4 linked regions of the Homo sapiens genome follow. The protein of the gene in region 2 purifies or fractionates together with the protein of the main gene of each other region. This does not show direct contact. Each region holds a gene or a part of one and is shown on either strand. Other genes may lie near its edges.

Evidence for each region. The genes of interacting proteins can lie anywhere in the genome.
Region 1: the proteins of MEX3C (region 2) and AP2B1 purify together in Homo sapiens (affinity purification with mass spectrometry; 4 studies listed by BioGRID and IntAct, with this or other methods). This does not show direct contact.
Region 3: the proteins of MEX3C (region 2) and PABPC1 purify together in Homo sapiens (affinity purification with mass spectrometry; 3 studies listed by BioGRID, with this or other methods). This does not show direct contact.
Region 4: the proteins of MEX3C (region 2) and ZC3HAV1 purify together in Homo sapiens (affinity purification with mass spectrometry; 2 studies listed by BioGRID and IntAct, with this or other methods). This does not show direct contact.

What each region holds. Positions count from the first base shown.
Region 1 is NC_000017.11:35,590,322-35,593,821, reverse strand, and holds part of AP2B1 (AP-2 complex subunit beta), read right to left. Parts: intron 1-3,500. UniProt on the Homo sapiens protein: Component of the adaptor protein complex 2 (AP-2). Adaptor protein complexes function in protein transport via transport vesicles in different membrane traffic pathways.
Region 2 is NC_000018.10:51,187,682-51,191,181, forward strand, and holds part of MEX3C (RNA-binding E3 ubiquitin-protein ligase MEX3C), read right to left. Parts: intron 1-3,500. UniProt on the Homo sapiens protein: E3 ubiquitin ligase responsible for the post-transcriptional regulation of common HLA-A allotypes. Binds to the 3' UTR of HLA-A2 mRNA, and regulates its levels by promoting mRNA decay.
Region 3 is NC_000008.11:100,705,089-100,708,588, reverse strand, and holds part of PABPC1 (polyadenylate-binding protein 1), read left to right. Parts: intron 1-1,591; coding exon 1,592-1,702; intron 1,703-1,783; coding exon 1,784-1,938; intron 1,939-2,915; coding exon 2,916-3,000; intron 3,001-3,500. UniProt on the Homo sapiens protein: Binds the poly(A) tail of mRNA, including that of its own transcript, and regulates processes of mRNA metabolism such as pre-mRNA splicing and mRNA stability.
Region 4 is NC_000007.14:139,047,221-139,050,720, forward strand, and holds part of ZC3HAV1 (zinc finger CCCH-type antiviral protein 1), read right to left. Parts: intron 634-3,500; coding exon 374-633; 3' UTR 1-373.

The sequences.
Region 1 (3,500 bases), on a different chromosome or scaffold from region 2:
TAATGGGGCAAAAATCTAAAGGCCAAATGCAACTGGGTAAAAGTATGAACCTATTATGGCTTTGTGATTTTATCCACAGTAACTCCTCAAAGCTTTCAAGAGCTAAAGCTGGACCTTTTTATAAATATATCTGCAATTACTTTCCATTCAGGAAAATCTGGTAACTTCCTTGCCTCAAGCTGGAATCACTCCAAAACATATATTCTGAAGCAGTGTAAGGTCAAAAGAAAAAACAATTTTGCCGATCTATGACATGAAACTTTCAATAAAAAGAATCTCTTTCAGAAAAAAAAAATTCAAAATTAGTAGGACAATATTCTTTCACAACAAACATCTAGAGAGGCAACCATGACTTATGCATGGAATTTTTTTAATTTTTAGTTTTGTGGGTATTTAGTAGGTGCGTATAGGTACATGAGATATTTTGATAACAGGCAGACAATGCATAATAATTACATTAGTGTAAATGGGATATCCATCACCTCAAGCATTTATCCTTTCTTTGTATTATAAACAATTCAATTACATTCTTTTAGTTATTTTTAAATGTACAGTAAATTATTGTTGACCGCAGTCACCCTTTTGTGCTATCAAATACTAGATCTTATTCATTGTATCTAACTATATTTTTGGATTTAAAAAAAAATGTGGCTTTCTTACTTCCAACAATCCAGATTTAGCCCAAGAGTATTCCCAAATAATGCCAGTTTATAGTTAAAAACAAGGCAAAAGACTGAGACATCCGTTCAGACACGAGAATCAAACTGGTGTTGAAACAAAAGAACGTGGATCTCAACCTCAACCTTAACTCTTCCATCCCAATTTCCAGAAGAAGTAATCCAGATGACAAATGGCTCTACTAACAAAAACGGCACAGTCTGGTCACATTTTTACTAAATAATAAGACTACTTTTTCTGATTTGAGAAACTATAAGACTTTGTCCAATGTACCAGACTTCTTTAAATATATTAAAATTTTGGGGCCAGGCACAGTAGCTCACGCCTGTAATCCCAGCACTTTGTGAGGCTGCCGGGTGGATCACTTGAGGTCAGGAGTTCAAGACCAGCCTCGCCAACATGGTGAAATCCTGTCTCTGCTAAAAATACAAAATTTAGCTGGGCATGGTGGCACGTGCCTTTAATCCCAGCTACTTGGGAGGCTGAGGCAGGAGAATCGCTTGGACCTGGGAGGCGGAAGCTGCAGTAAGCCGAGATCACGCCACTGCACTCCAGCCTGGGCAACAGAGCAAAAGTCCATCTCAAATAAATAAATAAATAAATAGGAATTTGGGCCAGGCGCGGTGGCTCAGGCATGGTGGCATGTACCTGTAGTCTCAGCTACTTGGGAGGCTGAGGTGTGTGGATCGCTTGAGCTTAGGAGATCAAGGCTACAGGGAGCTATGATCTCACCACTGCACTCCAGCCTCAGCGACAGAGACCTTGTCTCAAGGGGAAAAAAATATATAAATATACATATATTTTTTAATAATATTCCTTCTGTACTCAAAATGAGTATCTTTTTCCTTATCACCATCACTAATAATACTTATCACCAACTTCAGGACAAGACATGCTGGCACCTGCTCATTATTATCAGGTCAATATGACATAATGTATTTGGCAAACAATAGTAAATATGGATCTAGGAGAAAAGACCTAAGCACCAAACAAATCAATGTAATTAAAGAAAAGAAAAAAGAGCCAGATAAACATAAAATAATGAAAAACTTCTGGTTCAAATCTGATCTCTAAAACGTGCTACTTGTACAGTTTAATGGAAATTAGACTCATTTGCTATCTTTCCAACCAGCTAATTACTATTTATAGTCTTGATCCTAATAGCTCTTTAGATTGTACCAGAAATTCACAGAATGATCTTGTTAAAAGAAGTGAGCTAGGACTCACAAATATCATTACAGAATATAGAAATTTCTCCTTTAATACTTGTTATAATTAAAAATTATACTGAAGCTTGCCTTATGCAATGTTTTTACAATGTGTTTCTAGCAAAAATTCAAAGAATGTTATAATCATTTAGTCCATTCATAATGTAAACTAAATGTGAAGTGGGCAAATGAAGAAAGGAATTCTTCACATAAAAGACCTGGAATAAATCTGAAGTTATTTATGAATGTATATATACAAACAGAAAAACCAGTAAACAGAAACGATTACTTGAGCCTCAAAGAAGGACTATAGCTCAAATCCATTACAATCTGTCTAGGATATTTACTATGCTATGCTATGTCCTTTAAAACTTGTTTAAGATTTTAAAACAAAACCTCCTTAGAATTTGTCACCCAATTTCTCTGAAAAGCCTCTTATACATACACATATTAAATTTTTTTTGGCCAGGCACGGTGGCTCACGCCTGTAATCCCAACACTTTGGGAGGACGAGGCGTGCGGATGGCTTGAGCTCAGGAGATCGAGACCAGTCTGGGGAACGTGGCGAAACTCCGTCTCTAATAAAAATACAAAAATTAGCCGGGCATGGTAGCACATGCCTGTAGTCCCAGCTGGGACTCACTGCAACATCTGCCTTCTGGGCTCAAGCAATCCTCCTGCCTCAGCCTCCCGAGTAGCTGGGACTACATGTTGGGATCACCGTGCCCAGCCCATTAAATTCTTTTTTTTTTTTTTTTTTTTTTGAGACAAAATCTCACTGTGGCCCAGGCTCCAGTGCAGTGGTTCAATTTGGGCTCACTCCAACCTTTGCCTCCCAGGTTCAAGTGATTCTCCTGCCTTAGCCTTCAGAGTAGCTGGGACTACAGGCACCCACTACCACGCCCAGCTAATTTTTGTATTTTAGTAGAGACAGGGTTTTTCCTTGTTAGCCAGGCTGGTCTGGAACTCCTGACATCAAGTTATCCATCCACCTCGGCCTCCCAAAGTGCTGGGATTACAGGCATGAGTAAATTCTTAACAGGCATTTTCACTACATTCTATTAAACAATAAATTAACCTAAGTCTTAAGTCATACCTTTATCAGTAGCTCACATATTTCATTATCTCCCCTAACAATTTCAATGTCAAGGAATATATTACTATCCTGTTCACTGTGAGCATTAAGTGTTCTTGTCTTAACTAGAAAATAATGCACCCACCCACAAAATTTCAGGGAAGAGAGGAGGGTCAAGTATCTTTAGAAGCCTATAAGATAGATTCTAAATTAAGAGTCCCTGCTGCTCTAAAGAGAAGGGATATCACTCTAGTAACCATATTGTAAACAATAGTAACAAAATATTCCCTAACCATATTGGCAGAGAAACATGGTGCCAAGCTGGTTCTTGCCTTAAGCCAAAAGAAACTCCAAGAAAAATGAAAATAGTGTAAATAAAAACAAATCAGAAGACATGATTGTTGCACAACACTGTCAGTGTACTAAATGCCACTGAACTGTATGCCTTAACCTGGTTAATTTTATGGTACGTGAATTTCACCTCAAAAAAAAATCACATATATATATGATTCAGTGTATCTCTCATATAATGAGTTCTC
Region 2 (3,500 bases):
TGGGCAATAAGAGCGAAACTCCGTCTCAAAAAAAACAAAAACAAAAACAAACAAAAACCCTAAATCATCTCACGTTTCATGATATATAAGAATGAATGAAGGGGTTGTATTAATAATTTTATACAAAATAAGGTCCCTTTCCCCTTGGAATAGTCTAGACAGAATATTCAAAAGCTCCTTTCATTTTATAGAAACACATAAAATACTGTATTAAGGTGTTACAGTAAATATGGAATTGCCATTAGTTCTATTAATCAATTCTAGTATTCTATCTTCAAAGACTAATGAGTATCAACTAAATCCCAGTAAGAATGTTTCATGTACACAACATTAATTCAACATTTTAAGTAATAATTTAAGAATGCAATGTATTCCTAAATGCATAATATAAAACTAATAGCTTTCCTTTCTAGGGTTCAAGTGGCCTCCTTGTAGCTATTTTAAGGCAAGAATACTGTTTGTCTCACTTTAGGGATTACTATGACAATACTTCAAACACCTTCATTTATGTGATTTTAGTTTCATTATCAGTATTCATATAAACATTTAATGCCTTCAATCAAGTAGCATCTACTGTACTTCAAACAAAAGTGCCAAACAACTTGAGGTTGACTGGGTCCTTACATAAAAAGCTGTTTGGCCAGTTGTGGTGACTTATGCCTGTAATCCCAGCACTTTGGGAGGCCGAGGTGGGTGGACTGCTTGAGCTCAGCTTCAGCTCAGAAGTTCAAGACCAGCCTGGGCAACATAGTAAAACCCCGTCTCTACCAAAAATACAAAAAACTAGCCAGGCGTGGTGGTGTGCACTTACCGTCCCAGCTACTGGGGATCACTTGAGCCTGGGAGGCGGAGGTTGCAATGAGCTGAGATTGCTCTACTGCACTCCAGCCTGGGCGACAGAGTGAGACCCTGTCTCAAAAAAAAAAAAAATTAAAAAAAATGCTGGGAATAAAGGCAAGAGGGAAGAAAACCCCAATTAAAACAATATGGAAAGTACAATGATATAAACAATAAAATGGCAAGTTTATAAGAAAAAAATTTAGTTCAATAAAATAAAAAGGAAGTATTCCACTTTGTTTTAGGTACTTTAACCAATATTAATAATGCAAAGATGACTAAGATTCAGTTCTACCTTCACTGACTTGTATTAACTTCAAGCACTGAAAGTATTTAGTGATACATGTTCATGTACACATAGTGACCTATTTTCTTTTCTTATACTGTTGGTTGGTGACAGTAGTCAGATCTTCTACAATATCCTTGCTGATTTTTGTCTACTTGTTCTACCACTTACTGAGATAGGCACGTTGAAGTCTCAAACAATAATGGCTTGAGACCTTGGATAAGTTGTTTGTAACTCCATAGACTTGTTTATCTGTTCGGTGGAATTAAGAATGGATTAAATGAGATGACACATGTAGTTTTTGCACAGTGCCTGACACAAGTTTGTTGTTATTAAAAGACAAGTGAACTGATTTTTATAGGGAGTTAAAAACATTTAAAGAAACTCCTAAAGATAAAACATATCATAAACTTTGCAAAATTGAGAAGATTTTGCAAAGTCAATCTAACTGGTAATATGAAATCTGGTTTACTTTTACCTCATTTTAGGGACTCTCTTTGGACAAAAATCAGAATATAAGAAATGTGACAGACCACCTAGTTAAATCTCATTTTAGACATGAGGAAAACCGAAGCCTAAAATTGTCCAGTTATAAACTAGTGACCCCTAAACCAATGTTCTCTCAAGCTGCCTTATTTTCCTAAATCCCAATAAGAATATTTCTAGTGTATTTTTAGGAGTGGAGAAGAATTCCCTGCATGTACAAGGTATTTTAAAAAACAGAAGTTAAATTAAATCTAAAACCCCTCTTTTTTCACTTATTTTAGACAAGACAATAAAAAATATTTAATGAAAAGTTTTATTATTTGGCCTTTCAGTAAACCTGAAAGAAAAAACCAGAAGAGGGTGTAAATTAGAGATGAAAGGCAGAAGTTTTCCTAACTGGGGAGCTTGAAATTATGTTCATGCTCTTTGGAGAATGTTAACAGAAACCTTAGAATTATCTGTCTGGGTACCATACAATGGAATTAGATTCATTTGTAAATGATTCTCTTCCAGACTTGCTTAGTTCTTTGCCAGGAAATACATTTCCAAAGCTCTGATTTTAAATAAATTTTAAGACATATTATAAATTTAAAAAATATAACTTACATAATTTATTGGTATAGCCTACGAAAAACTTACTAAAATGACATTTTTTGGCTTTAACTAGCATTTGTTCAGAGTATAAAAGAAATTTAGCAGTAAAAATTTACCTTATCTGATATATAATTTATCATCTCTGTACTTTCAATTGTACTGTCAATTTCTACTAATGCTATCTTCTCAGACTTGATCCTCACAACAAATGAGGGAGAGGGGAGAGAGAAACCTGGAAGAACAAGTAGATGAAGTAGGTTTTTTCCAGAAGAGAAAACAGGCTCAGAGAGGTTAAGTGATTTATCCAAGGTCACAGGCAGCAAGTGCAAAACACAAGGTTTCTAACTCCAAGTCCAATGTCCTTTCCTGCATTATACTAAATGGCACTGGTAGAAAGGCAGAAGAGAAGGCAAAGGGAAAGGGAGGCACAGAGAAGGGAAATAATAATAAAAAGGTCAGCCCCAAATGCAAATATATACTTTTACATTGGTAACCATTTTGGGAGATCTTTTCTAGTTGTTTGAAGCCATTCCCTCCCCACTTCCCCTTCAATCATGTTCAAGACCAAATTACTTATGCTTACCTTCAACTACATCTGCAGTTTTCATTAAAGGATTTTCTTTTATTATTTTAAGGCTTAGTCTTATTATTCCATGATAGACTTTACTTGTGACCAAACCAGGCTTCTCTGCATGCAATGAGGAATTGTAGTCCGTACTTACCGGACAAGGGCAACAAACACTTGAAGTGTCCTTACATCTCAAACACTGGCATGGAAGAGGTCCTATAGTTAGTGTAACTTAAAATTCTCAAAGTCAGTTATAGAATAAAGACTTGAACTACTCAAACAGTATTAGACTATGCATACATTCAATTTAGTATATCTGGGTTTGGTAATCCTAACATTAGAAAATTATTTTCAAGGCTTAAATATCAGATTTAATCTTTGTAAGTCTCTATATAGTAACTAATGGTAGCATGGGGAAAATGTTAAAAGTAAATCCACAAATTATGGCATATAAGCTACTTGGGAAGCATTAAGAATGCAGTTTAATAAAAAAGGTATCACTTAAGGATCACCTGAATATCAATGGAGATTTAAACATAACTATCCATGATCTACTTGGAGCTTCTTAAAAAGCTTTTTTTATTTTTAAGTGCAAATACACTCCTTTAGTATCTTATGAACATTATCTACTTTCTCATCTTGAGTTTGGTTACAAATTCTACATGGCAGGAATGACACTGTTTAGAATTCTATAACAATCCTATAAATTATAAAATAGTACTGTAGTAG
Region 3 (3,500 bases), on a different chromosome or scaffold from region 2:
CATATTTTGTCAGGCCACAGTTTTAAAGGTCTCGTTCCATTTAATCATGTATGAGAATCAGAGTCGTGGTATTTTATGTCTTGTCCTGTGGAACAGTATGTTATATTCCAAGAGCACTTAGAGTTTATTTTTTTAGACAGAGTCTCACTCTTTCTTCTAGTCTGGAGTGCAGTGGCATGGTCTTGGCTTACTGCAGCTTTCACCTCCCGGGTTCAGGTGATCCTCCTGCCTCAGCCTCCCAAGTAGCTGGGACTACAGGCACACGCCACCACGCCCAGCTAATTTTTTAAATTTTTTGTAGAGACGGGATTTTGCCCTGTTGGCCAGGCTGGGAGCACTTAGAATTTTATCATGATTATGTTTCAGGTATATTTATAAGTGTGGGCGGCAAACCACCCAGGTGCCAAGGCAAGAGACCGAGGACACGAGCTGTTCCAATATAATAAAATATAAAATAAGAATAGTTATACCAGATATAGATCTTAGATATGATTATATATGAATATCATTAATCATTAGTTTGTAGCAATTACTCTTTATTCCAATATCATAATAATCCTCACTCTATAATCATAACCTAGGAAAAACCAGGCCATACAGAGATAGGAGCTGAGGGGACATAGTGAGAAGTGACCAGAAGACAAGAGTGCGAGCCTTCTGTTATGCCCAGACAGGGCCACCAAAGGGCTCCTTGGTCTAGTGGTAACGCCAGCGTCTGGGAAGACGCCCGTTGCCAGGCGGACCGAGGTCTAGCAGTAGCGTAAGTGTCAAAGGAAAACACCCACTATTTAGCAGACCGGGAAAGGGAGTCTGCTTTTCCCCTGGGGAGTTTAGAGAAGACTGCTCCTCCACCTCTTGTGGAGGGCCTGACATCAGTCAGGCTTGCCTGCAATTATCCAGAGGCCTAACCGTCTCCCTATGGTGCTGTGCTTCAGTGGTCACGCTCCTAGTCTGCCTTCATGTTCCATCCTGTACACCTGGCTCTGCCTTCTAGATAGCAGTAGTAAATTAGTGAAAGTACTAAAAGTCTCTAATATGCAGAAACAATGGCGTAAGCTGTCTTTCTCTCTGTCTCCTCTCCCTCTCTGCCTCGGCTGCCAGGCGGGGAAGGGCCCCCTCTCCAGTGGACACGTAACCCACGTGACCTTACCTATCATTGGAGATGACTCACACTCTTTACCCTGCCCCTTGTGTTTTGTTTCCAATAAATAACAGTGCAGCCAGACATTCAGGGCCACTACTGGTCTCCGCGTCTTGGTGGTAGTGGTCCCCCGTGCCCAGCTGTCTTTTTTTTTTAAATCTCTGTGTCTCGTGTCTTTATTTCTGCACTCTCTCGTCGCTGCATACAGGGAGAAGCCCACCGACCCTGTGGGGCTGGTCGCTACATATAAGTACTCGTCCTTGTATGAATTAATGTTTTTACTTATTGATGCTCTGAGTCTGGGAAAATGGCAAGTGTTAAGACTCAGCTTTAAAAAGTTTTGTCACTTTTTAGTCTTTTATGCAAACCTCAGATCGAAGAAGACAGCATAAACACTTTTCACTCAGTAAGTTTTCCCAGTTAATGTATATTCACATCTTTAAAATGCAGCATTCCAAAATATGCCCGGTGCTATCCGCCCAGCTGCTCCTAGACCACCATTTAGTACTATGAGACCAGCTTCTTCACAGGTTCCACGAGTCATGTCAACACAGCGTGTTGGTGAGTCTTAATCCTTCCTTTAAAAATTGATCACCAATTTGAAAGAGCAAGATAAAAATACAAAATGTTCTTATTTTTTAGCTAACACATCAACACAGACAATGGGTCCACGTCCTGCAGCTGCAGCCGCTGCAGCTACTCCTGCTGTCCGCACCGTTCCACAGTATAAATATGCTGCAGGAGTTCGCAATCCTCAGCAACATCTTAATGCACAGCCACAAGTTACAATGCAACAGGTATGGATTTAATGATTTCTTAATAAAAATCACATTTCTTGGGTGAAATCAAAGGTGTGAAGACAGCTGGGCACAGTGGCTCACACCTATAACCCCAGCACTTTGGGAGGTTGAGGCAGGCAGATTGCTTGAGACCAGGAGTTTGGGACCAGCCTGGGCAACATACAGGACCCTGTCTCCACAAAGAAAACTAGCTGGGTGTGGTGGCATAAGCCTGTAGTCCTAGCTGCTAGGAAGGCTGAGGCAGGAGGATTGCTCGAGCCCAGGAGTTTAAGGCTGCAGCAAGCTGTAATCCCTGCTGGGTGACAGCAAGACTCTGTCTCAAAAGAAAAAATGTGAAGACAGCTGCATGATAGATTCTTGAGAGCTTAGCCTATCTGGAACATTCTGCTAATATGATAGTATGTAAAATGTCTTACGCTTTTGGAATTGGACAAGCAGCGAGAAATTCACATCCTAAATCACCACGCCTGGTCTGAAACAACTATTACAAGTAGCTATGGGCCAGGCGTGGTGGCTCACACCTCTATGTAATCCCAGCACTTCAGGAGGCCAAGGCAGGTGGATCACTTGAGGTCAGGAGTTTGAGACCAGCCTGGTCAACAGGGTGAAACCCCAGCTCTAAAAATATAAAGATTAGCCAGGCTTGGTGGCACATGCCTGTAATCCCAGCTACTGGGGAGGCTGAGGCAGGAAAGTTGCTTGAATCCGGAGGCGGAGGTTGCAGCGAGCCAAGATTGTGCCGTTGCATTCCAGCCTGGGCGACAAAGTGAGACTCCATCTCAAAAAGAAAAAAAATGTATCTGTGATACATAGTATATAATAACTACTTTGGCTTCTTTCTAATTCGCTCACTCAACTTCTCCACCTCATGTTTCGATGGAAGTCTACCACTTCAGCAGATGTCCATTGATGACTATTTGTATTTGCCATCTTTTTCTGTGCTTTAAACTTAAGAGTTCTCATTTTCTGTCTAGCCTGCTGTTCATGTACAAGGTCAGGAACCTTTGACTGCTTCCATGTTGGCATCTGCCCCTCCTCAAGAGCAAAAGCAAATGTTGGGTGAGTACTTCTGTCCCACCTTGTCAGTTCAGAAAGACTAGAAAATATAGGAATCACTTAGGCACTAGGTCAATCAATTGACAGCTAGGGCAGTGGAATTGATCTGAATTGGCATGAATGATTATGATAGTACAGTTGGTCTGCCTAATTAAAACCACTGGAAAGCCAATAAGAAAATGTATTGTTAGTAATAAATAGGGTAGTAGGGCATTACTCACCATGGGCCCTCACTACATTTTTGAGAGAAGGAATTTGAAGCAAATGAGAAGAAAACTTGTGACTTTGCCTGAACACCGATTTAACAACCTAATGGTAACATTGCTTAATTGGCAAGCTGATAATATCAAGAGTTAATTGCCTTGTGGCAGATTTTATTCTGTCTTCCCATGAAGACATAATGAAATTGTGGATTATGGGTTATTATATACGTGAGACAGAAGTATGGTTCTTAAACCCCAGTTTAATGTGGTAATTCAATGCAGTTAAAAACTTTTTTTTAT
Region 4 (3,500 bases), on a different chromosome or scaffold from region 2:
CGGGAGGCTGAGGCAGGAGAATTGCTTGAACCCGGGAGGCAGAGGTTGCAGTGAGCCGAGATCGCGCCACTGCACTCCAGCCTGGACGATGGAGTGAGATTCAGTCTCAAAAAAAAAAAAAAAAAAAAAAATACAACTGCCTGGCGCTGACGCCCAGAAATGATTTCATTGGCATGGGGTGCAACCTGGGCATCAGAATTTGTTTAAAACCTCCCAGATGATTCTAATATGTAGCAAAATTTGGGGACCACTGATCTAAGACATTAGATAACTGAGCAGGAAAATATAAAACTTTAACTCCTGTCTGCGGCAATTTAGTTCTGTAAAGGAACAGAATGGTTATGGCATCCTTCTGACGCTGTATTCATCGGTTCTAACTAATCACGCAGGCTTTGTCTTCAGTATATTCAATCACATATTGTGGGTAAACCTGATCTTTCTGAAAGATGACAAAAACGGAGGGATTCGATCTGGTATCCACACAGCTGTCGAACTGTGGAGGAGGGCTCGTGTACGTTATATTTCCTTCAGTAAACTTTCCAACCAGAACTTGGGCTACAAACATAACGACGTTTTTGGCATCATACGGGCAATTTTTGTGGGAATAGATGGCATCTTTTGCAAAGTAAATTCCTAGAAAGAATCAGAAAGAAAAGTTAAGAAATATTATAAAAGAAGGTATACAGTTTATAAGATTTGTTATATACAGTCAGATGGGTGTGGACTAAGCATATGTCAATAATACCTTACTGATATTTATAAACTTTCCTTTGCACTTAAAAACATGTTAATGATGCAGGCGAACTTAAATACAGTATATAACCCTATAGAAATGACTGAGGAATATTTGCTACAGTGCAGAGCTCATGCTGATAGTGTGAGCCATTGGGTGCAATGACCAAATGACAATGTCACAGTGGCCCAATTCATGCAATTCACCCAGTGTGAGCTGAATGAGCAAACTTGGAACTGATGAGTCAGTTGATGCTTCGTCCTCAACTCTAAAACAACCTCAGATAACGATTGCTGCTTCCATACACAGCAGACCAACAATTTCCTGCCAAGTTAAAATTTTTATTTTTATCATTGTCAAGTGCTACTCTGGGCAGGTGCAGTGGCTCATGTCTGTAATCCCAGCATTATGGGAGGTTGAGGCGGGTGGATCACATGAGCCCAGGAATTTGAGACCAGCCTGGGCAACATGGGGAGACTCCATCTCTACAAAAAATTTAAAAATTAGCCGGGCATGGTGGCGTGCACTTGTAATCTCAGCTACTCAGGAAGCTGAGGCAGGATTGATTGAGCCCAGGAAGTTGAGGCTGCAGTAAGCTAGGATCATACCACTGCACTCCAGCCTGGGCAACAGAGTGAGATTCTGTATCAAAAAATACTAATAATATTTTCTAAGAAAGCTACTCTGTCGTTTTAAAGACCATGAGTAGATATTGCAACTCCTATTTCCATGCAAGAATCAATAAGTAAAATGAATTGTTTTACTTGTGGTAACAAATGTTTAATATACTTCCCATCTACTTTGTTTTTGTTCTTTTTATCATTTTATAGTTAGATGTTTGAATTCCAGAAACATTGCTTATCCTGAATAGGTCAGATACTAGATATTCTGTGCAAATGATGTTCTACTATATTTAAAGTAAAATATGGAAGTCTACCTATACTGACCTACGACGTCCAATCCCACTCCCCTTCCCAAAACAGTTTATGGCTGGCGGGAATTCTTTCACACCTGTTTCTATGCATTCACATACATATATGTGCATATGGTGGTTTATGGTGGTTTACTTGTTCATAAATAGGATCATAATATATGAACTGTTCTACAACTTTTTTTTCCACTTTAGTCCTAGAAATCTTGCTATGTCAGTACATCCAACTCTCTCTCTCTCCTTTTTTTTTTTTTTTTTTCGTTGTTGTTGTTGTTGCTGCTGTTTTTGAGACAGGGTCTCTGTCACCCAGGCTGGGGTGCAGTGGTGCAATCTTGGCTCACTGCAGCCTTGATATCCTGGGCTCAAGCAATCTTCCCACCTCAGCCTCCCATTCTAATCGGTGCGAGGCAACAGCTCATTGTGGTTTTAATTTGCGTTTGCTTGATGATTAGCGATGTTGAGCATTTTTTCATGAACTCATTGGCCATTTGTATTTCTTCTTTTGAGAAATGTCTATTCAAGTCTTTTGCCCATTTTTGAAACTTTTATTTGCATGTATTTTACGCTGAATTTATTCCCGTGCTGTAAGTTTTTGCTTCTTCAGTATCTTCTAGGATAGCTTTTTCTTCTGTGCACCTCCTCTTCTGGTTTAGGAACACGGTGTGCTTCTTCAGGAAGATTGTCTCTATGTGGCAGGGGGAGCTTAGGCATGAGTTAATCCAACCATGAGCTCTGGAAGTCTGGTGGCACATCTTGGGTGCTTTGTGCGCCTGAATATCCTCGACGACCAGAGAATCTACAGCTCAACCCTTACGTTCAGCATTACTCTCTGCATTTTTAAGTGTGTACAGCAAGAATTCAATTCTTTTGGGGTCACAAACTGCGTGCCCAGCCCCACTGTTTGGTCTGGGCACTCCTACCAACTCCACCCTCGTAACGTTGGAATGGTACACATTGTTTCCATACAGTGACATCTTTCAGACATTTGCTGGCTTTTCATATAGGCGTACTCTTGATGGCCTGGGCAGTTTCATGGGTGTCCTTAGAGTGAACATGAAGATTTGAACCTCTTTATTTGCATGATTTCATGGAGTTTTCTGGGTCAAGTGAATAGTGAACCATTTTCACAGATCACCGCAGGCCACTTATGGGAACAGCTTGCACATTTTAAAATTGAGTTATTTGTTCTCTTGCTGTTGAATTGTTTAAGTTCCTTACATATTTTGGATATTAATCCCATATCAGATGTATGGCTTGCAAATATTTTCTCCCACTCTGTGGGTTTGTCTGTTCACTTTGTTAATTGTTTCCTTTACTGTGGAGAAGCTTTTTAGTTTGATGCTATCTCATTTGTCCATTTTTGTTTTTGTTGCATCAGTTTTTTTATATCACACTTATATAATCTGGAATCTATATTTTCTTTTTTTAAAATTCCCTTTATTGTGTTAAGAAAGTTCATTTCTATTCCTACATTTCTGAGTGCTTTATTTTTTTCTTTTTTGAGACAGAGTTTTCCTCTGTCACTGAGGCTGGAGTGCAGTGGCAGGATCTCAGCTCACTGCAGCCTCCCCTTCTTGTGATCAATCAACTCTCATGCCTCAGCCTCTCGAGTAGCTAGGACTACAGGCATGTGCCACCACGCCCAGCTAACTTTGTATTTTTATTAGAGATGGGGGGGTTTCACCATGTTGGTCAGGCTGGTCTCAAACTCCTGACCTCAGGTGATTCACTCACCTCGGCCTCCCAAAGTGCTGGGATTACAGGAATGAGCCACAGTGCCTAGCCTAACATTTCATTTTTTAGGATAAATATTTGTTTGAATTCTAACATAGGATA